Homo sapiens: one gene and its partner. The protein of the gene in region 2 interacts with the protein of the main gene of each other region in a biochemical or structural test. Each region holds a gene or a part of one and is shown on either strand. Other genes may lie near its edges.

Region 1 (17,116 bases), about 23 Mb from region 2:
CCTTGATTCTTCCAGCAACATTTTGAGGTAGGTGTTGCTATGCACATTTTGCAGATAAGAAAAACCAGGTTCCAAAAAGTTCAAGTTTCTAGCCCAAGGAAACACAACTAATAAGAGGCAGAATACACAGTCAAACTCCCCTCTGCCTGGAACTTCTAACTTCTTTTGTCAAATGTACACAAAAGTTCTAAACACATGTATTTAAAAATTTTGGCAGAATAAAAGTAGTCCCTTCCAAAATATTTTAATCTGGATCTGACACCTCATCTAGGGTCCCTGTCGCTCTTTCTCTACTTCTGTGGGTTTTCTGCTCATTTTTGCTAGCACAGCCTCTGTACCTCAACTGTAGTCACTTGTGTCTACAGTTGTAACGTGTATAGTTACCCCTAGGAGACCCTCTCCTCACTGATCTATGTGGTTGGTATGCCCCTGGCCTTAATCCCACACTCATGATTTTTAGTTTCCATGCAAACTTCATATTTTGTTTCTTGATTTTTTTTTCAATGTGTTTATGTTTTGGATTCAATTTTGGCCAAGTCCCTTGGATTTCTTTGATATCCCGTTGCCGCTTTGCTATAAAGTCAAAATGAGCTGCATTTAAATACATAAAGAATTTTCCCAGCTCAATCTTCAGTTCATAAATTATGCTGCATACTGGTCTTCGTAGAAATCACAGTGATTGAATTATTGAGGTCTGAATAGCAGCTACTTTCCATAGATGCAATTCATTTCATATGCAGTCTAGCCCCAAATCTCATTGGTAGCAATTGGCATCTATCATATAAAGTGTGCAGCTAGAGAATTCGTATATGTTGCTGGCAGCCAACCATAAGCAGGCTGCCCTGTGAACAATGGAGGGACAAGGCTGTTGAAAGGCAAGTGTCGAAAATGAATGACTAACTCGCTGATGAGGATATTGAATTCAGTTTAACAGCTTTCACTTCCTTCTTTTCCCTGAAATATTCCTCTATTTTCAGTATGTATGGAAAATATTTTCACATGACCTACTCTCATCTCCCAACTTTCCTTTATTTGGAGAAATGAGCTTTTGCCTAGTTCTCTCAGATCAATTTTCAATCCAATCAGCTCGGTTTTGCATTGGAGGTTTTCCGGAGCTTCATATAGTCTACTTCTTTTGGCTCATTCCCAAGCAAAGAAATATATTTACCATATCACGGAATTCGATCTGGGCTCCAGCTTCCATTAACTTCTCCACAATTGCCAAATGTCCTTCCAAGCATGCTCTATGAAGAGCTGTCCGTTTATACTATCAGAACAGAGATTTTAAACAGAGATAGCAATAAATATAAAAATGTGTGTAAACCCTTTTAAGAGCTATGAAGCTGGAGATTCTGATGACCTAACTGATAGAAACTCAAGTGCTTCTTTATGAATAGAAATGTCAAAGTTAACTAAAATTGCAGAATCAGAACAATTATCCTGCAACTAATATTTGAGCTTCCTCCAATATACATTTCCAAGGGCTCAAAGGCCTACGTTGAGGAGTGTGAACTTAAAGGCTCAAAACTATCTAAATGCTGACATCTCCGTTTCTTCTATCTTGCACCTTCCTTGTTCATGTAGCATTACCATGCAGATCAGACAGCTTTCTTGCATCTGGGACTGTTGCTAGACTATCAAAAAGTTTCCATTCATTTTTAGGAGAATGGGAGACATGTTTTTAGTTCAACTTCAGAAGCGGTCCCCAATTTCACTTCATGGGGGAAAGAATACAAAAAGATTAGTGATTTCTGATAAATTGGCTTTATTTGAATGGGCTAATGAACTATTAGAGCTGGAACAACTTTAGGCGTTATTTCACTCCAATGCCCCATGTTTACAGATAAGGAAACCACAGCCCAGAGGATGCAAATTAGCTGCTCAAAACCAAATAGCCAAGTAGTGGTACAACTGGCCCCTGAACTCCAATCTCCAGATTTCTTATCTAGTGTTGACGTGCTTGGTTTTAATCAAAGATGATGCTAATAATATATCTCTAAAGGTGACTTTTTGGCCCACATTAAAAGTCTTATCCCAAGAATCTAAGAAGTTAAAGAAAAACTGAAAAATCAGCCAGATGTATATGAGTGCAAAAAACAATGCAATCCGTATCACTGATCTAATATCTATTTATTTTTTGGACCACTGAACTCTCCTATTAGGCTCCTGGCATACACAGCAACAGCTGGGGAAACTGTTTCAGGTGGAAGGACTTTGGCACTATATTAGCAAGACTGGAGTAAAGCATAAGAAACATAAAATTAATGAGCTGGATTTTGCAGTGCTTTGCATGAGTCTTACCTCATCACAAACATCTGGATTGTTCTTGTCTGACAAGAATTTTTCTACTACTGGCAGTTTATTCTCCAGAGCAGCCTTCAGAAACGTAGGCACATCCACAGGTTCCGTCTAAAGCCAAAATAAATAAATATATATATATATATATATATATAGCATGAGAGTTACCGTGAGCTTGCCAGCATTCAATCAAACCCTCCACAGATATTTGCTCCCCTGTAGCACAACACTGGACATGTATTACTGGAAACCAAAAAAAAAGCCCTTACAATGATTTCAGGTTCTGGTTCCTTTACAACTGGAACTTTAGTTTTCCTGTATTTTTTCCTTTTCTTCAGTTGAATGATTATTTCAAGGTCTTCTAAATTTTCAAGCTTTGATCTTTGTTCTAGTTTTTTCTTTTTGAGCTAAAAAAGAAATTCGTATTTCAAAAATATGGTGAGTTCTACTGACAAGCATTCTGGTTGTGTCTAAACTAAATCTGCAAGGTCTGAGATAAACATGTGAACAGTTTGAGCAAAAACATTTTTTAAAAATTATATAAATCTTTGACTTCATTTTAGGGATTTCTTATTCAGATATTTATCTGGGAGTCTAATTTTCAGCTAATTGCCATCATCTTTACTTCTGTTGCTTGTAGAATCAGCCCTTGACCAATTGAGGACACGATCTGGTCTCTAAGTGATGACTTTGTAATTAATGCCATAAGCAAGTCTTAGATTTTTAAAGGATTTTTAAAATTATGCTCAAAACTTGGTTTAATTTTTGAGCATGATAAAAAGAATCTAACAATAAATGTTAAGCTCTGAAATATCAATGTCATTCTCTTTCACTAAGCAGAGCCTTCTAAAACAGACTGTCCAGGGACCACAGCTAACTAAAGCAAATTTTATCTGTGTTAGTAATTAAGGAAAATTCACCCAGAAACACAGATTGTGTCAACACAGATAGCAGACAGTTAAACAATGATCTATGGACCACAGACCATGTTATTGAGAAAAAGAGATCTCCGTTGCTTGGGATTAACTACATGGTGTGTAACATCAGGAATTCACTGGACATGTGTATCTTTCAATCAAAACATGGTCACAGCACATTTATTCATTGATTCAGAATTCAGAGGTCATAGTCTTGTCAAAGAGTTATTTCCCAAAACCTGTTCCATACAAGTTGCCTCTTTACGGGTTAGAATCTGGTAAAGAGACATCTTAATGATTGGGTTTGTTTCTCTCTTCTCCTTCCCTGACATTTCCATTCCCTACCCCAGCCCCAACATCCTACTAGTGGATTCCACAGATGGCTCTCACCTCTGCCTCTCGTTGTTTCTCGCTTTTCCACTGTTGCTCCCCCAGGGTCACAGGGTGGGCTAGAAGTGTCTTCAGATCCTCCTGCTTCTCTAAAGTAACAGCAGCTTCATACTCTCCATCTCTGAAATCCTCAGGAAGGAATTCCCCTGCCTCCCCATTGCCATTCTTCTTTCCAGTGACCTATGAGGGAAGAAGATGGCAGCGTCAGAAGCAGCAGCCTCGTCCTGGGTCATTCTTCACAGACAATGCCGCAGGAGGCTCTTGGTCCTTCTCCCCTGGGAACAGCCACCTTTGAGCAGTGCACTCTCAGATCTCAAGCTGCGATGCACACTGCTACAATTGTCCCAGAATTACCTTCAGATGCTTGTCCTACTCTCTTGGTTAAATCAAAGCTTGGGTTAGGTTGACAGATTAAATCTACTTTTAATCTGCTTAATCACATTTCTTTTAGGAAAATCAAAAACCTTCTCTGCTTAATTAAAACTCAACTTTAGGTACTTTTGATGAGTTTCGCCTTATTGTAAAGTTTCCGGGCTTACATTCTTTCAATAACACTTCTTCCCTAAGACATTTTGATAACTACACGTGATTCCACACTGTAGTAATAAAACCAAAGGAGAAGATATTAAATAGGAAATATGCAGAGAATTCATTACTGGTAGCTCCATTTTTTTTTTCCAATTTCACTTGTTTCATCACATCAACCTTTTTCCATATATGACATTTTCAGAGTTCCCTTGCATTACACCTGAAAGCAAAGGGCATTTCAATTTTCAAATAAAAACCAAGATGAACCAGTTTTCATTTTATAAAATTAATGCATCTTACATACCAGTTCCTCTACTTTCAGTACCATCATGTTGGCTGAAGGAGTCTTGTATGTTTTTCTGTCGTGGAAGGAATCCCTGGAGTTGGCCCTGCTGGGCCCCTCCACACCGGTCAGCTTATATAGCTGGGGCCGGGTGAGATAATCTTCCAACCTGGGAACCGAAGTAACACTCCCACCCCCATTAGGAGCCAACTCAGAGGCAGGTGAATTTTCATTCCAGACTCAGTGTCTGGGAAGCTGAAGAGGGAGGGGAGGACAAGCTAACCCTGCTGAATATGTGAATCAGGAAGAAATGTGAGAGGGCCATTCCTTTGGTGGTGATCACATCGCTCAGCAATGCAAGTCATCCTATTTGTCAAGAGTCAGGGGACAGCTGTCTGTTGACATTGCACCACATCACTGCCCTTTTTTTCTTTGTCAGCTTTCATATGACTACCTATCAAGAAAATGTAGATGCCCTACATATCACACCCCCAGTAATATCTTTCTGATAAGCAGACTTATCAACACTTCACTTAGGGGAAACTTGTCCCAGGACATCCTATTCCCTGGGTAAACAGCCTGAGGGGAAGGGATCTGGGCCCTAAAGGCACTTGTCTATATCTGTTTGGAATTCTTTGGAGTGATGTCTGGGGCTAAATAGGCCCCATGACATGCCACCTTACCATCATTATAAGAAATTGAAAGCATTCAGTAATGCACTTTTCTTTTATGATGTCACTGGCCATAATTAGCACATGACATGCTTACCGTGTTCTAAAACAGCATAATAATTGGAGCATTTTTACTTCAAAATGGATCAGAGTGGTCAAGAAATAGAGTAAATGAAACCAGCTATCAGCCGGGTGCAGTGGCTTACACCTGTAATCCCAACATTTTGGGAGGCAGAGACAGGAAGATTGCTTAGCTTAGGAGTTCAATACTAGCCTGGGCAACATGGCAAAATCCCATCTCTACCAAAAATACTATATATATATATGAAAAAAATGAGACCAGTTATTAGCAATGGCAGGACTCTGATTAGGTCATTGAGCTGAAGTTCTCAAATGCTGTGGGGAAAGGAATCACCTGTGGGAGCTTGTCAGAAATACAGATCCCTGGGCCCCACTCCAGGGAATTCTGAGTTGATTTATGGTAACTCGTAGGAATCATCTTGAATTTCAAAGCACCCAGATGATTCTGATGCATCAAGATTTGAGACACGTGGCTGGAGGGATAATGCACTTTGCTTCCGGAAGGGTTGAAAAAGGTCTCTATTTCTGGTTTCTAATCTTTGAGGTGTAAATTATGTAAAAATACTGGGGTCTTTTTATAGTTTCAGGAAAAACTGGGTTTTTTTCAGTAAAAGAAAGGAGAGAAGAATGGGAGAAGGGAATTGTGAATGGAGGGAAGTGTTAATTAGGAAGTTATGTTTGACCTTTGTGTGTCTATTTCTCCCCAAACTCACCCAATCAACAAATGTGGCTGCCATTCTCCTCTTCCCCCTTGAATGCTCAGTCAGTGGATGGTGTTTCTGAAACTTTGAGAAGACATCGACTCCCCACCCCAAGACAAAACATTGACAAAGAGGGACCCTCCCAGTACCTCCTGTATCATATGTTCCGGTCTCCTAATATTCTATCTTAAAAGGGGGTTAATTAAAGGAAATCTCCTGGGCTTTTCTTTGAGATGGACACAGCTATCACTATTTTCTTTTTAATTTTTTCCTTTTCTCTTTATTATTTATTTATTTTTAATATATGGAATGTTTCACAAATTTGTGTGTCATTCTTGCACAGAGTCCATGCTAATCTTCTTTGTATAGCTCCTATTTTAGTATATGTCCTGCTGAAGCAAACAGAGTCATTACTATTTTCATTGGTCTCTTCATCTAAGTCAGAAGTAGTCATGGACACTTTTTCTACCATTTCGTATGCCTTTTTGTTCCAGGCCTGACCCAAACTGAGGGAGGTATTAGGAGGAGAAGTGTTTGGGGGAAGGACTGTGGGATGTTTAAGGGTCTTGGATATGAAATCCCAGAGCTGTCCATGCCCTCGAAGTTGGAGCAAGACTAATGCTCTCATTTTACAGAGAGGATGCTGAGGCAAAGAAACATTAAGTAACTTGCTGCAGATGCACAGCTAGTTGGTGAATGCTAGGTTGAAGAGTCCTGATTCCATCCAACAGAAGCAGACAATCATTGAGCCCAAAAGATTTCCTAGGGCAAGTCTCACCTAGACCCACTCAGGATGCAACCAAAACTGATTAAATGGCTCCTTACTGTTTCAATCACCTCAAAGAATGCAAGTGAAAGTGGGCAGGGAGGCTTACCAAGCCCTTTTCTTTCTCCAGGCATTTAATTATCCCTTGAAACCTAGCTGATTCTATAGAGAGGCTCCAGGAAGTCTTGAAGAAAACTTTGCAGAGGATGACACTTGAAGATGAGTTGATGGAATGGGCTGAACTTAAAGGAGCACGCTGGTGGATGCAAGGATGTCAGGGCTGGTGAAATCACTGCCAGTTCAACCTTTTCCCATGTTGATCCAGCTTGTCATTATAAAACATGAGAGGTACAACTTGAGGATAAGTGGTCAGAAGATGTAAAAAGAATATGACAACAAATAAAGAAAAAAAACATGAGAGAATCTGCTTTTTGAAAAGAGATTCTAGGCACCTTTAGCTCTCTAAAAAGATAAAAACAACAACCATTGTATTTTCAAATCGTTCTTATTCATCAAAATTGAGAAAAAAATTCCCCTGGCGGAGAGTTTTCTGTCATTTGTTTTTCAGAAGCATCCTTCCCATAAAAGTTCACCCAGTGGTGTAAATTCTTATATTTGTGTATTTGGCTTTATCATAGCCTCAATCTGGACATAATCTATCCTTACTAAGATGAATTAAAACAATAAAGGTCCTAGTTGGTTCTACAATCATAAAGCAACTTGGCATCACCCATCTCCAACCAGAAAGAGTAAAGGAAGCATCCCTGAGCTTCTCCAGTGTCACCCCATGAGCCTTTTCCCACTCCCCTCAGGATTTATGCATTTCCATGGGTGAAATGACATGTGACTAGAATTAGGACCATGGTTATAGCTGGAGAAAGTGAGAAGCAGAGAAGTAGCACCTAAAGCAATTACTGCTGTCACCTAGGGATTAAAAGAGGCGCTTGGACCCCACCCAGATCCATGTGCCATAGCTCAGCTCCAAGTCCAAGGGCAGTTTTATCTTTCTGTATAAAATATGAAGTTCCAGACGTTCTACTTCTACTCCAACTTTTCATTCTTATATTTTAACTATATAATAGACACATTATTGTTAAAAATAGCACAGAGAATGTTATTTAGTTCAGATCTTACTGTCGATTTGATACTTGATTATTTTTCGCTCAGTAACCGTGTCTTACAGATTGTCTCCTATCTGCACAAACAAATCTATCTTGCTATTAGAAACAACTGCATGAATTTCCATGCACGGACCTACCATTTCTTATTTAACCACTTTCTCATTTGTGGACATGTAGGCTGTTTTTTTAAAATGGGCATTTTTATTTTCTAAAAAGGCATTTTATAGCACATAAAATTTTATTGTTATTAACACTCCTTGTCCTTAGAACACCCAACTTGATACTAAAAGGAAGTGCTCCAAGGACTGTAGCCAGATTCTGACTTGGAAACCTCCTTGTTCCACTGTTGTACTTACAATTGCTCATTTTGCCATCCCTTTTAATAGCCTTCCCAGTCCCAGCTGTTACGCACCTTCCTTGGCCCAGAGAAGTGGCTGACTTAGCCTGACCAGCAAGCCATGGCTCAGTTACGTGTTTGAAAATGCCAAAGGAAGGTCATAAAAGTGAAGCAAATAAGGTTTAATGTTGTTTCCCCTCCCCTGCCAGGAATGGGATAACCTGTATTTGAAAAGCAGAAAAGTACTGGAAACATTTTCAGCAGGATTGTGGCACCTGCCTTCCTTGCCTCTCGAAAGGCAGAATCAAGACTAAAGTCCTTCTGCCCAGGACTCTGGATAGAAAGGGCACAAACTGCCCTAACACAGTTGGGCTGCCCACAGTAGGTTACTTTTTACGGATATCGGTGGCCTCCTGACGTTAGAGGTAGGTGAAGGCTGTAGGTCTCACCTCCACACCTTACAGCAGGTGCCTTGTTACAGTAAATAAGGTATCTCAGTGCAAATTCTGCCACACATATGAACTCACACCAGCCAACAGGCACAAAGGGCCACATGCACTATTCAGTAAACTCATGAAGCCCAGCCCTTTGTCCATTTAGGCCCTTGGACAGTGTCCAGCACAAAAGATTCGCTTGACTAGGCATGGTGGCTCATGCCTGTAACCTCAGCACTTTGCGAGGCCAAGGCAGGAGGATCACTTGACCCTAGGAGTTCGAGACCAGCCTAGACAACATAGCGAGATCCTGGCTCTATGTTTTTTTATTTAAAAAAAAATAAAAGAAAAAGTTTCACTTGAAGCAAATGAAACCACAACCACATTCTGGCAGCATATTTCAGCTAATTTTCTAGTCCACTCAAGGTGATTACAGACTCCTCCACATATGGCCTAACACAAGATAGGATGGAGTCCTAGCACTCACTATAAGCCTAGGACTCCAACTGCATAGAAAAGTGCCTGACACATAGTGGGGCTAAATAAATATTTACCTGAGACCCAGCAGGGCTCATATTCTTTTCTAACCAAACCACATATTTCAAATTCTCCTTTCAATGAGAAATAATTGGTAACATTTCTCATGCTAATTAACCATTAATCTGTCAATACTATCAAAGGTAAAGATAGGTAAAGTACTTGGGATTACCTCCACTGGAGTGGGGGCAGCTCATTAGTGTCTTTCAAATGCTAACTAACCCCAACAGTTGTAATCGCAGAGTCAGGGCTTCTCAGGTGTGAACTAACATTTCTTCAAGCAGTGATTCTCTAAGCTGGGTGCATCTTAGAATCCTCTGTGAAGCTTCTAAAAAAATGCTGATGCCCAGGCTTCAGCTCAGGCACATGAAATCCAAATCTCTGCTCAAAGATCCAAGGAATTGGTATTTTTTAAAGTTTTCCAGTTGATTCTAATTTCCTCCCAGCATTGAGAATACTGCTCGAGGGTGTAGAATTAAATGAATATGTATCTAAATACACGTGTATTTTCTCCAAGTTGTAGTGGACAGTCAAGCTATTGTTATTCTGGTCTCAGAATTTTGATTGTTGAAGACTCTTGCCTATGCTAAGACCATGGGAAACACACACATACAATTTACTCATTTATTTTTTATTTTATTTTATTTTATTTTATTTTATTTTATTTTATTTTATTGTTTTGAGACAGAGGCTTGCTCTGTTGTCCAGGCTGGAGTACGGTGGCACGATCTTGGCTCACTGCAACCTCTGTCTCACGGGTTCAAGCAATTCTCTTGCCTCAGCCTCCTGAGCAGCTGGGACTACAGGTGCATGCCACCATGCCCAGCTAATTTTTGTATTTTTGGTAGAGATGTGGTTTTGCCATGTTGGCCAGGCTGGTCTTGAACTCCTGGCCTCAAGTGATCCTCCCGCCTTGACCTCCCAAAGTGCTGGGATCACAGGCATGAGCCACTGTGCCTGGCCTACTCATTTAATATTTATTTAGCTCTACTTTGTGTCAGGCATTTTTCTAGAGCTGAGATATACTTATGCTCTCAAGAGACACACGACTCTGCCCTCACGGCATTCACACAGTTTTACTGAAGTATTTAACAAAAACTACAGACAATATAACATGCTTCTTCTGCCACAAATCAAGAAGAGTGAGGCGAGACAGTAGTTTTGTGGGTCTGGTGGGGATGGGATGAAGAATCAGGAGGCTTACCTCTAAATCCTGGCTTTGCCCTGTGTTCACTGGAGCAAGTCCTCTCACCTCTTACCATCTCAAATCCTGAAGTTATAAAAGGAGAGCTGAGAACAAAATGATTTCTAGGGCCCTAAAGTTTTACTGAGGTCTCAAAGTCACTGAATCAAAAGGTAGAAATAAACATTCATAACTGCAGCATCACGTGCGGACAGTGAAGTTGATTCTCCAATGCCTCTAAAAGAGGAAACGGTCCATAAAGCTTTCACTAGCCCAGGATATTTCCACTATCTTTAAGACATTCTCCCACTTGATAAACATAAAAATTTCACACTCTCTGTTACATGGATAGAAATTTCAAGAAGATCAACTTGGGGTCAAGATGAAATAAAAGTAGTGGTAATTTTGATTATGCCTCTTCAAACCTTCTAAGACCGCAGAGATTTTTATAAGGCCTCATCCTCTTTCTTCCCCTTCTGAGAATCCCTGCCCAAGCTCTTGCCTAGGCTGACATCTGTCCCCATAGAAAAGGTAGTGATAAGTGTCCAGGAAGGGATCTCAGTGACTTTCTATTACATTCTTATTTCCCCAAATAATGGGTTCTTGTTTAGGCCCCCTACACTGGTTCCCAGAACATTAGGAAGGCAGAGCCTCTAACAATCAACATTCTGGGATTGTGATAAGGACAACTGGCCTGTCTATTACAACCTCAAGAAGAATGGGTGTGAGTGGGAGAATCAGTTAAAATGTGAATGCATAATGGTTCCCCTCCCACCCCTCAACTTTCTCAAAAGCCAAATTTACTTCATGAGATTAAATTTCACTCAATGGACGGTGGGATGATGGAGAGTTTGCGTTGAGATGATTTTTTAAAAGGAAGTTTGATTGTCATAGTAACGCTCTGAAAAGATTTTGATGCAACTTTGGAATTACTTCACACCCAATTACATAGAACATCTACTTGGAATGAGAGATAAGTGCTTCTGTGACTGCAAACATAGATAGAAAATCCATTAACCTTTTTAGCCATTTATTAAAGCAGAGGAAAATTATTTTTAAAATGCAATTTCTGACTTCAAGAAGAAGTACCGAAAAAAATATTTTCTTGGTGTAGTTTGGAGTTTCCTAATAAAGGGCAAATGCCACAGAATATCTTCACTATGGATTCCTTGGGAATCAGAGAAATTTAGGGCCAGTAACACACTGAGTGGTCATTGAGTCCACTCCCTGACCAGGAAGGGCCAGAGTTAGGCAGGTAGAACCCTATTACTTTAAAAACTAAAACCTCCCTTTGTCGTTATCCTCATATTTAAAAATCTTACTGCAATACAGTTTCTTGTGGCTTACTTACAGCTGGGCAGCTTAGTCTGTTTGTCTCATTCTAGCTTCAGGAATGATCATCACCAAAAACACGTATTGAGCATTTTTTCCGATGACTTTTGCTAGTCAAAGGGAAAAAAGCTAAAAGGTGAAATTACTGCCATTGAACTGCCATTACTTGAACTGCCATTACTTGAACTACCTTCATCCACTGGATCAAAACCATTTTCATAACTGGGTATTGTTAAGCTCTTCAGAACATAGGCTTTTGGACCATTAGAAGGGCTTTCACATCGTCTAGTCCAGTTCTGTAACTGTACACACTGGAGCAAATGACACCTGAAGAGGTTCTATACATATGTATTATCTTACTCATTCAATACGTTTGTTTAGTCTGTTCCTGTGGGACAACTTGACATTATCCATTTCCTGAAGTGCTGCAACAAGAAATACCGTACACACCATCACTTATGTTCTTACCAAAAATTTTACCCTGAATCCAATTTCAGACAAATTCAGAATGTAGGACATTCAACAGGGCAACTATCTTGGGCTCTTCAAAAAGGTAAATGACTAGAAAAACAAAACAAAAAAGAAGTGAGGAATTGTTCTCTCTTTGATTAAAAGAGAAGAAAGAGCATGAACCTTGGTGGGATCCTGTAATTCAAGACACAAAAGCTGTAAAATACATTTTGAGGACAACTGGAGAAGTATGGAAGGTATTTTAGACAATATTATTAACTGAGTGATGATTTTCTTATGCATGATGATGGTTTTGTGGTAATGGAGGAGAATGTCCTTATTGTTAGGAGATGTATTCTGAAGTATGTAGGAATGACCTATGATGCTTTCAAATGGTTCAGCAAAAGAGGTATGCATGTGTGTAGAAAGAGAGAAAGATGAGAGAGAGTACAACTGTAAAATATTAACAATTAGCGAATCTAGGTGACAGTGCTCATTCTACTATTCATTCAACTTTCTGTATATCTCAAAATTTAAACATGAATAAAACATTTTAGTAAAACAGACACCCTAGCACGTAAGTTTCACGAAGCAAGAGATGTTTGTTTCTCCCACTGATGTAGACCAAGTGCTGAGAGCAGTCCCCAGCACATAGTAGGCACTCAGTAAAAACGTGTTTAAACGGAAAGCAAAAAAGGAGGTGGCCCCAGCATGGGGTCAGAGGGAGGGAAGGGACAGAAGCCAAGAAGTGGGCAAGTCTGCTGGCACACCACCCTGACATCAGTGTTTTTCAGAGGCTTCCCTAGAGCCACAGGAATGCTACAGAATAAGGCTCCTGTGGACAGTGCCCTCTCAGCTGCACCTGCTTTTGGTGCAGGCAGCTGGGCAGAAGATTAGGTAGAGAAGACTCACCCAGCCAGAATGTCTTACCCATGTCCCCACCCACCACGATCGATCTGGAAATGGCATGGAGATGTTTCTGATGAGAGTATAAAAATGTAGGCATCCGTCAGCTCGCACTGGTTCAGCCATCCTATGTATACAAGGGAAAGCTTGAATATATGTGAAACCTCAGGGATTATGAGATCCATTAGAACCCACTTAATATTATGATGCAAATGGTGAGATTGAAGGTCTTACAATTAGGCAAGAGCTGACTGCTTTCTTCATTTGATTTTCTTTAATGGCACCAAAATAATATACTGTTTTTGAAAAGACGAGTTTTCTAAGATTCTACTAGTTGATGATTTATTATCTCATTTCCAAATTCCAGGGTTAAGGAAACATGTATATTAAGAAATGGCTAAAATATGAATGAAGCACAAATGCTCTGGGAGGCTGATGGAGGAGGAGGAGGGTACCAGGGTGGGTGTGCGAGGTCATGGTCCAGCTGAAGGCCAATGAACCGAAGGTTTCTTTATTTTCTCCTCTTTTTCTTTTTATCTTTCTTTTCTCACTTTCTTTCAATGTCTCTTTTCTTCTTTCCTCCCTCTTTGCTTCCTCTCACCCTTCTTTCTTCTCTTCCTTCCTTCCCTCCTACCTTCCTCCCTTCCATCCCCCGATTTTAAAAACCACAGTGATTGAAACTAAAGAGCTGGCCTACGCACCTCAGGGCTGAGGACTTGTTAGCTCTCCTTGCCTCCTGGCAACCATGCCCCTTCTAATAGTGACTGGTTGAGAAAGAGGCTCAGAGTCTTTTAGCTAGAATAATCCCCTCAGGCATGTCATCTCTTTCCAGTGCAGACCTGCAAGGGAGGTGATCTTATTCCCACTGAGAAGGAGCCTGGCAGTGCTTCTAAACTGAATTCTCATAAGAAAGGGAAGAGCCTGTTTGCAAAAACATACTCTTTTGCTGCCAACACAAGCAGATCTTTTAGGGAGGAGGGGAACTGTAACCCCTCCAAGATCTTTGCTCTCCTTCAGAGCCAAGGCTCTCAGGTTTCACAAAGGAATTTATAGAGCAGACTGACGCCTCTGGGGTTGGAATCAGCTCAGGACTAAGTGGAGAATGAGGAGAGGGACAGGCACCCTTCTCTGCTCTGTGCAGGCTGGGGATTGTTTACCAGGGGATGAAAAGGTCCTCTCCCTGAAAAGGAATGTTTGGCAAGGAAATGACTTCTGGAGGCACAACTGAATGGCTCCCCAGGGAATCAGTTTGGGTTAGTTACAGATCAGACCCACCACCCTGGACAAATCTCACTGGGCAGGGGCGGCGGGGCTGTGATTACAAGAGCTTGGGGATGTTTAAAGCAACTCCTGCCTTCAAAAGACAGCTGTCCTCTTTTCCAGATAAGTTCTGTATGGTAAAAGAAGGAAAAGGAAAAAAAATAGAGGTTAGAAATCATATTGAAAAATTAAAGGAATGTTTGATTTGTCCATAAGAATTTCCTGACTGTGCCACTTTGCTCAGCGCTTGTCCTAGGTCCTTCCAATATCACATTTAGTGGGTAGTGAGAAGGCGTGGAGTAAGTGACTCTGGTTGCTGACATTCACACTTGGATGAAGTGGAGAAAGATGATGTCCTTCCTTATTTGGTGGCTCTGGAAGCCACATTCCCTCCTCATCCGCCTTCCCAAAAGAACCTTGTGGCTGCCCAGCGGAAGCCAGTGCTTTCAGCAGCCCCCACCCTTGGCATTTCCTTATCTAGGAGTCTTCACTGTGGAATTCCAAGGCCCACCCCAATGCTCCGGATGTGTTTCAATCCATGGCCTGCCACTTTGTTACTCTTGTGATGACAAGCAGATAACATAGCTCACATGCCTTCTTTTCCTGCATACCAACCAGACCCCAGTTCTGAAAAGGAAACAAACCACAAACCAAGAGAGATGTGTTATTTTTATGCAGACATTGTTAAGACACTGCAATAAGCCTAGAATTGTGGAGAGTGCTTTCCCATGTTGCTCCAGTTAATCCCCTCAGTCACTCTGGCATTTATACAAATGAGGAAACCAGTGAGTGTGGAGGTTAAATAGTCAAGGTCTCATAGCAAGTGTGTGTGTGTGCATGTATGTGTGTGTATCTTGGGGGGTGAGGGTTGCCAATTCAAAGTCCAGAATGACTCCAAGTCCACAGCACCTTTGTTGCAGTTAAATGCCTTTACAACTAAGCGTGACCCCTTTGGCAATCACTACTAAGAGGCTTTACCAACTTCTGACACTGTTAACTTCAAGACAAATATGCTTTTTTCAAGACATGGCATCAAAAACTGTATTTCTGTTATTCCTCATCACCATGGTTACAACCACAACTCATCTGTAATTTTCAAAGACCCTGCATCAGAGAAACAACAAAAATGTGGAGAAAATATTTGCTGAACATGTCAGTAAATAAATAAGTATAAAATATGAAAGTGGCCAGAATATACCCAAATCAATAAATATGAATGAGTTAAATGCCTCTTTTGAAAGACAGATAATGGCCGGGTGCGGCGGCTCACGCCTGTAATGCCAGCACTTTGGGAGGCTGAGGCAGGTGAATCACAAGATCAAGAGATCGAGACCATCCTGGCTAACACGGTGAAACCCCAACTCTACTAAAAATACAAAAAAATAGCCGGGCGTGGTGGCAGGTGCCTGTAGCCCCAGCTACTCGAGAGGCTGAGGCAGAAGAATGGCGTGAATCCGGGAGGTGGAGCTTGCAGTGAGTCGAGATCGCACCACTGCATTCCCTCCTGGGCAACAGTGCGAGACTCCATCTTTAAAAAGAAAGAAAAAGAGAAAGAGAGAAAGAAAGAAAGAGACAGATATTCTTAAAATCCAACAATTCCGCTTCTGGGTGTATACCCAAAAGAATTGAAAGCAGAGTCTTGAACAGATATTTGCACACCCATATTCATAGCACCATTATTCACAATAGCCAAAGTATGGAAGAAACCCAAGTGTTCATTGACAGATGAATGAACAAGCAAAATGTGGTATTTACACACAATAGAATATTATTCAGCCTTAAAAAGGAAGGAAATGCTGACATATGCTACTACATGGATGAACCTTGAGGGCATTATGCTAAGTGAAATAAACCAAAAAGACAAATACTGTATGATTCCACTTACATGAGGTACTTAGAGCATTCGAAATCATAGAGACAGAAAGTAGAGTGATGATTGCCAGGAGCCGGAGGGAGGGGGAAATAGAAAGTTATAAGAGTTTAGAATTTCAGTTTTACAAAGTGAAAAGAGTTATGGACATGGATAATGGTGGTGGATGCACACTATGAATGCATTTAATACAATTGAAATATACTCTTAAAATGGTTAAGATAGTAAATTTTTTGGGGGGAGGAACTGGAACCCTAAAAATGAAAGAAAAATGAATTTTCTTAGAAAGATACTCTTATATGATGTAAAACAATACAAACAATAAAAGTCTATGCCATTTATAAGAGATATACCAGGATGACACTGGACGGTTGAAAATAAAGGGATAGACAAAGGGACACCATGTAAATGCTACCAAAATATGCAGAAGGGACAGTATCAGTGCCAGACAAAATCAAATTCAAAGCAAAAAGCACTAAATGGGACAAAGAAGACTGAAAGACATAATCCAACAAGAAGTTATACTAATAATTAATTTTTGTGCAATAAACAACATAGCATCGAAATATATAAACACCAAGTCTGTGTACTTAGGCATCCTAAGAATGGGTAAATATAGTAAAAAGTACTGTTTTGGCCTGATAGGAACTTGCTGTCTCTTCCAGTGGATAATTTGTCTGTAGTGTATTTAAAGCAGGGAGCTTAAGCTCAGACTTCCAGATTGGAAAGTTTCTAAGTATTTCAGGGAGAGGTTATTTATGCTGTATGAGTATTTTACGTCAGGGAAGCATTATAACAAATAGACCATAAAAATCATACCACATCCAAAGGAAAAACAAAAAGCCACAGAAGGTTCTTGGAGTGTCTCTTCAGGAAATCCTCCACACTCAAGGCTCTTGCCAGTTAGGGTAACGTGTCCATAAATTTCCTCTAACAAACCCATTCCAGCATCAGAAAATGACAAATCAATCAAATTTTGGGGGATTGATAGCTAAACTCTTCCAGGACTGTGGGCATAAATCCAGGAAAGGAATTTATGCCAAAAATTGAA
Region 2 (7,379 bases):
GGTGAGTAGGCCATTTTCTTATTATTATTTTAATCGAATTGGTAAAAGTAAGAATGTAGGAAAGAAAGTAAAGATTTCGTTTGAGTGGGAGAAAAAAGACTGGCTCCTACGAAGCGTATTATGTATGTTTTTGTATCCAGAGGATGACAAACATGTAGGGAAGCGCTAGTGAAAGACACTGCAGCCAGAGCTCAAAGGTACTATTTAATCTGAAAGACAGAGAAGAAATATTGTAAAAAATAAATCCTATGGCCCATAGAAAGTCTCATGGAAGGCAATCAAGAAGACTTCAAGAATCTAGGATCAAAAAAGAAAAAGGGTTTGGTGGTTGTCACAAAAGTGATAGGCATAGGAGGTTTTATATCACTCTCAAGATCTCACCATTCATAATGAACCAAACTGTTATAAAGGAAATCCCAAATGGGAAAACTTCGTCAATCCCTATCAACTCAAATATTTATTTTTTAAATGCAAAAATTTAACACTTTCATTCTTCTTCAGCTTCTTACTATTTGTGTCATTTTTAAGGTAATTAAGGATTTGAAAAAAGCTAACTTCCCTAATTAAATTGACATAATACATTTGCTAGATTGAGAGAGCAGTAGGTGTCCCAAGGGATCTCAAGATCAAGTTCTAGTTCAAGCACTTTGTTGGGAGGCTCTATTGGGCCCCTCCCTGAGAGTGGAGTGCACTGTGACTCCGAGTGGAGGTCTCCGTAGCAGGGAGCCTGCACAGAGCTTGTCAAGGTGACTCTGGTTATACATGAACTCTGAGAACTCTATAGCTACTGCAGGTAAATAGTCCCACCAACCTTTGTTCCCACCAAAAATATATCTGCTGAAATTGTTCTTAAATTTCTAAACAGACCATTTAGTCTCTACCTAAGTTGTTCCCTTTAAGCAAATGGGTAATGTTATAGTAGTTTTAAAAGCATTTGGTCAACCATGAAGCACCACAGAGATATTTTAAAAAATATCATCCCCTAGGAGAGGGGAAAACCTGTTAAGAAAACCCTTTCATTTTTCTATCTTGTTATCTAACACCATGAGACCAGCAACATCTTTGTCAAATCTCAATGTGAATGAAAAAAAAATTAATTGTTCTAGGGTTGGCAGGAGCATTTGACTTATATTTTCAGGTTAGTGAACTGAGTCTACTATTCCTATTACGTGTAGGAACTAACTGTTGAAAAATTGAACTCTCACTTTTTCACATACCAACATTAGTTCATTAAAACCCTTTCAAAATGGAACCTGATTTACCTGTTGTCTCATATGTTCAAAAGCAAATTTGCAAAAACTACCACTATGAATTCCAAAACCAGCTTGGACAAAAACTCATTCAACTTCTTGTGTCCATAAATTGTGGTTCTGTGTCTGTTCTACTGAAAGTGCCTTTGTAAGCATATTGTAGTAGTGTCTATATTATAAATTGTAGATATATGGAAGACTGGGGTTTTAACACATTATTATGAGTTCCAGTAGCATTAGCCATATACTATAAGTGGGGATAGAGACACACTTCCAGAATTTGGATAGTGTTCAACTGTTTGTTTCATAGTCCATTATTATAAGATTCTGTAAGGCCTATAATTTTATCTCTTGACACCTCTGTAAGTATATTATCCATATATTTCAGATTTCTTGGGATGGCCTTGATTTTAAATATTTTGCTTGTTGTCAAATCATGTGTCGGACAGTATATCTTATTTTCTGTTTTAAAAAATATGTTTATGATAGCTGTAAGTATAGACATTCTCAATTTCCTAGAAAAGGATTATGAATTTTATGTGAACTCAAGAGCTGTTATTATTAAGGAGAGACTATAAAGTTATGACAAATTTTTAATTTAGTGTTTGTAGGATTCATTTCATTATTACTAAAGTAAAAGTAATTGAATCATACTTTTTTGAGAAAGAAAACTGGATGACTGTGTTGTTTCTTTCAAGCTGATGTTAATATCTTTAATAAGCATATAAAAATCTGTTGATAAGTTACTAAAATTCCTTAACACCATTACTGTAATGTTCACTTTTGAGGACTGGAAATACATAATAATCCATCTTTTCTCTGTCTTTGCTTATACAGTTTTTAAAATTTAACTCAAGATGTGCATCTATTACTGCTAATAGTGCAATGTACCAGGCCAAACATTTGCCACTGACTGTCAAGTGTCTTTCTGATGCAGCTGAAAAGGGAGAGAGAGAAAGAGACGGAGAGAGAGAGAGAGAGAGAAAGGAGAAAGAAAGAGCAATGTCCCTTGAGCAAGACTTTCTGCAGCTGTTGTGTACATTAATCCAGGGAGCAGATCTCCCAACACTAAATATAGCAAGCGTATCCTTTTACATGATAAAAAAATTTAAAATGAAAGTCTTTATGCAGGCATATTATTTTAGATTCAACTTCCTTTAAAAAGGAAACTGGCATTGCTTACATATTCTCTATATAAACAACATTCTTTTAATAAATGAATGTGTGGAAAATGCCAATGAGATATGCAACATGTCACAACTTCTTCTGTTGAGATATTTTTCCTTAGGAACTCAAGTAGTCTGTGATCTCTGTGAGTCTCATCAATCCCCTCCAAAATCTTTACATGTGGAAAGCTTTATTTTTCACTTAATTTCGTGTCCCGTCATATGTAATTAGACAGTTATCCTAGGTTTCATTTCAAGTAACAGTAATGAGTTCTTTGAAATATTCGCTTTTCCACTGTCAGTGCCCTGTTATCAAAACACACTTGTGAACTTAAATCTGGATATTACCTTTCTTTTTTTAGTTGACCCAGATGAGGATGTCCAATCCAGGCACTCCACTGCAATGATAATTATCCAGGGAGAACTTTTAGATGAAAGCACAGGAGAAGAGGGAAATTCTTCACGCCCTTGGAAATAGAGAGTAGCCGTCCATAGAGAGTGAGGAGTTAACCTTAGTTTCAGTGAAGATGGCTGTAAGAAGCTGGACAACCTGTCACCACCGGAGCCAGAGCATTTGTCAGCTCACAGGTCCCAAGTTATTTTGAGCTGTATAAACCATGTGCCTGTGAAACATTCCACCTGATTGGACAGGAGAAAACTGAGCAAAGGGATTCCATAGCAGGACAGCACCTATGGGGGTGGGGGTCAATCAGTTCTTTTACCTATAGAATTTCCCTTATAGCTAGAGGCCCATGTTATTTATTGATTGACGTTTGGAATGAACACTAAATGCATTATACCATAGTTCATCATTCAAAAAAATGGCATTATTTTTAAATGTATGAAAACTCTTCATTTTAATTTTTAAGATCTTTAATTTTAATCAATAGGAAATTTACTCTCATTAAATCACTGATACATTTTAGGACATTTGGCTATGAAAAGCCAACCTGAAGCTAAGGTCTAACGTTTTAAAGCTGAGAGCTTTTTTGGATTGTTCGTCCAAAGGCTAAGCAAAAGCAGACAAGGTAACTAACGTTAAAAATTCCTTGGCTGGGCGCAGTGGCTCACTCCTGTAATCCCAGCACTTTGGGAGGCTGATGTGGGCAGATCACCTGAGGTCAGGAGTTCAAGACCAGGCTGGCCTACATGGCGAAACCCCGTCTCCACTAAATATACAAAAATTAGCCAGGTTTGGTGGCGCATGCCTATAAATCAGCTACTCAGGAGGCTGCGGCAGGAGAATCACTTGAACCGGGGAGGTAGAGGTTGCGGTGAGCCGAGATCACGCTACTGCATTCCAACAAGGGGGACAGAGCGAAACTCTGTCTCAAAAAAAATAATAAAATTAAAAATAAATAAATAAATAAACTTGAAAAAAGTTAACCTGATTGCTTAGTATAGATTAAATGATGCTATAACATTATCAATCATGGTAGAAGACAGGACTTTGAAAATTCAGACTTAAATGATGGTTATTATTCTTTAAAAAGATCATTCTTAGATTCTGATAGCATGAAACACATTGGTTTAAATCTAGCTTTCTTAATTAAGTCATACAACTGCTTATAGGGTTTCTTCCTAGTCATTCATTCATTTGATAATTATTTTCGTAATGCCTACTGTGTACCAGGTACTGAGTATAAAACAGTGCACAAAATACACAAAAATTTCTGACCTCGTGGAATTTACGAAGAGATCTTTATCCTCTTCAGTCATCGTGAGACTATTGATAGTACATTGAACAGATATAAAATTTCTTTGCTTATTGTGATCACATTGGAGGTTTAATTACACCTTTTTTATGTGGTTTTATGCTTACACAGGCAAAAAAAGATGAAGAACACTTTTAAATAATTCAGATTGAAATAACTGGTATTGAGGAGAGAAGAGGATACAGGAGGAAATGAATTATCTGTACAGGTTATTCTCATTACCACAGTAACCCAGAGCTTCAATGTACAGATTTATTTTTTCTCTTACCTAATCTTGTGCTGATACTAATGTCAAGACCACTTAATTGTCCTTCTGCATATTCTATTTATGTGGATATGCCAACAATTTCTTTTTATTTAAAAAGAGGATCTTCCTCCACTATCCCACTCAGATCTTAAGCCGTAATCAATGTTAAGTGCTGCTGGGTCTTGGGTAGGTCTCTCCCATGGGAGAATAGAACCTCTATTTCAGGTGGCTAGTAAAGGCAATGTTTAAACACACTATAAGTAAACACATTTTTACTTTCCTGCAAACTGCCATGATAAGCCTGGTATTCTACCTTTCACCCAGGTATAGAATACTAAGGTTGAAGGAGACTCATACTAAAAGGTAGAATAAAGCTGGTTGGGCAGTGAAATTAGGAATCTATATGAAGAATTAAAGTAGGTTTAAAATGCAAAAGAAGAGTTACAGAAAAAAGAAGCCGGCCGGGCGCGGGGGATCACGCCTGTAATCCTAGCACTTTGGGAGGTTGAGGCAGGCGGATCGCCTGAGCTCAGGAGTTTGAGACCAGCCTGGGCAACGTAGCGAAACCCCATCTCTACTAAAAATACAAAAAAAAAAAAAAATTAGCAGGGCGTAGAGGTGCATGCCTGTAGTCCCAGCTCCTTGGGAGGCTGAGGCAGGAGAGTCTCTTGAACCTGGGAGGCAGAGGTTGCAGTGAGCCGAGATGGTGCCATTGCACTCCAGACTGGGTGACACAGCAAGACTGTCTCAAAAAAAAAAAAAAAAAAAGAAAAGAGAAGCCAAAGACATTCTGAATGGCAGTCATCTTTCTCTTTTCATTTTTACTGCAACATTTTCAAATACAGATACCATACACAATTTTTGAGCTCTTTGAAAAAAAGCTGAATATAAATGTTTTAAATAAATAATATTTAGTAATTGTGAACACTCTGGTTATAGTACATCAAACATATTTTAGATTTTAGTTTTTAAAAACTAATTTCTGCTTCCAAATAACCCAGCTCCTGCCTTGCTTATCTTCAGTTGTAATTGTATAAACATTATATCACAAACCTACTAGTTCAAGATTTCATCAGAGTTTATTGATACAAAAAATAATCTTTAAAACTTTCTAATGCCCAACATAGTTAAAAACAAACTTTGTTAAGTGGCAAGCAAACACAAGGTTGGTTACATGTCTTAAGCCTTCCCCATAAAGTTGAGTGGCTCATCCAACACATGTGTTTCTTGTGGTTTGAACACGATCCTGTGCTTGCCTTCAGCTGTTTTCTTAATTCAGTCAGTCAGCCACAGAAACAATTTACTCACATTGGGATGATCCACAGGAATGCCAAGGAATCTGGAAGTTCTATGGCAGAGGAAGTCTTCACTTGGACGGTAAGCATGGGAGAATTTCCATGCTAGTAGATTCATATAAAATGTTTGCATTTGCTATTTTTTTATATCGCTATAGGCTCCAGTTCTCTAAAACAAATTACTCACATATACCAAAGCTTCAATAAGTTTTGCTTGAAGTTCATAGATTCATCTTGACATATCCAGTATCAGATGAAAAAACTAAACAAAACCTCTATGCCGTATTTTTGAAAAACAGAGAAAGTATGTATTTTTTAGCCATTTTTAATGAGAAAAATTTTCACAGCAAAGACAAGTTCTTGACTATCCAAAACAATAGATGGGTGGTGGATTATAAAAGATCTTATATAAAAGGCATGACAACAATATAATTGAAAAAGACAATGAAATCACTAAGAAATTTCTTTTTCATCTAAACTACTGAAAATGCTTGCCTGGGAAAACTAAAAACATTAAAAAAAAAAACTAAAAGTTCAAAACCCACTTAGTTTTAAAAACTAAAAACATTTTTAAAAACTAAACAGAACACCCACTTTAAAACATTATCCTGAGAAGTAAATTTGTGGTTACCTGTCTCAGGAGAAGCACCATTCCTATATCAATCAACCAGGATCATCTAAAGTCCAAATCTCACTGCCTAACTTGTGTCAGACACAAAAGTGCCATGAAGGAAATGTGATACTGCCCCGCCAGAGTAATGAAGGGTATTTACAGGGTTCCGTTGCAGATCCAGGGACAGTCATTTAGAACAGATTGCTCTTTCAGATCAACTTTAATAACTCAGTCTGCACGATGTTCTTAGCCTGCAGGGCTGGTGGGGGTGGATAATGACTAAGATGACTAAGGAAATAGGCTTTCTTGATTTCTCCTTAGTCTAAATGAAAATAAGAGTGAAGAAATTCTCAAGAATAAAGCATATGGAATACATAAGATATCTATACACAGGATGCATATTACATGTATAAATATCTTTATCTGGTACCAAACTGGGACTATGGTCAAGGCATTTATTAAGGTAAATACGAAAAAACAATCAATTATTACAACACTTCCTGTTTGTTCCCCTAATTTTAAGGTGATTAAATTAAAGCTTTACTGTGTGGTTTGCATTAAAACACAACAAAGCTTCCTTTACTTGTTCTTTTGGTATGTAGTACATATCAAAGTTTACACTTTTCAAAAAGTATTATTTCCAAGAAGAAAATCTATTCAGAACTTTTTAAAAGAGCACTCTGAGACTAAGTTACTGAAGAAATCTGGAACAATTGTTACCATGTATGTACTCCTCAAGGTATACAGTTAAATCCTACTTCTCACCACATTAATATAATGATTATATTAACACACATAAATATACTATAGTCTTGGTAGTAATAAGTTAACATTCCTTAGCTATGTGCGAGGCACTATGCTAGGCTCTTTGTGTGTGTGTTTTATTTAATAGATTCCTTTAACGTCTATGAAGTAGGTACTGTTATAATTCTCATTTTACAGATGAAAACTTGAGGCTTAGAAAGAAGTTTAAAACTTGCCCAAGGTCACACAACAAGTAAGTGACTGAGCCAAAATTGAACCTGAGTCTGTGCTCATAACCACTGCAAATATTCAAATGATTATATTTCCAACATATTTGTGAAAAATTCAA

Evidence for each region.
Region 1: the proteins of MYPN (region 2) and ANKRD1 form a complex in vitro, tested with the Homo sapiens proteins (one study listed by BioGRID).

What each region holds. Positions count from the first base shown.
Region 1 is NC_000010.11:90,916,564-90,933,679, forward strand, and holds the start of ANKRD1 (ankyrin repeat domain-containing protein 1), read right to left. Parts: upstream 4,525-17,116; 5' UTR 4,465-4,524; coding exon 4,438-4,464; intron 3,786-4,437; coding exon 3,606-3,785; intron 2,706-3,605; coding exon 2,568-2,705; intron 2,410-2,567; coding exon 2,302-2,409; intron 1,268-2,301; coding exon 1,169-1,267; intron 1-1,168. UniProt on the Homo sapiens protein: May play an important role in endothelial cell activation. May act as a nuclear transcription factor that negatively regulates the expression of cardiac genes. Induction seems to be correlated with apoptotic cell death in hepatoma cells.
Region 2 is NC_000010.11:68,105,109-68,112,487, reverse strand, and holds the start of MYPN (myopalladin), read right to left. Parts: upstream 3,001-7,379; 5' UTR 2,765-3,000; intron 1-2,764. UniProt on the Homo sapiens protein: Component of the sarcomere that tethers together nebulin (skeletal muscle) and nebulette (cardiac muscle) to alpha-actinin, at the Z lines.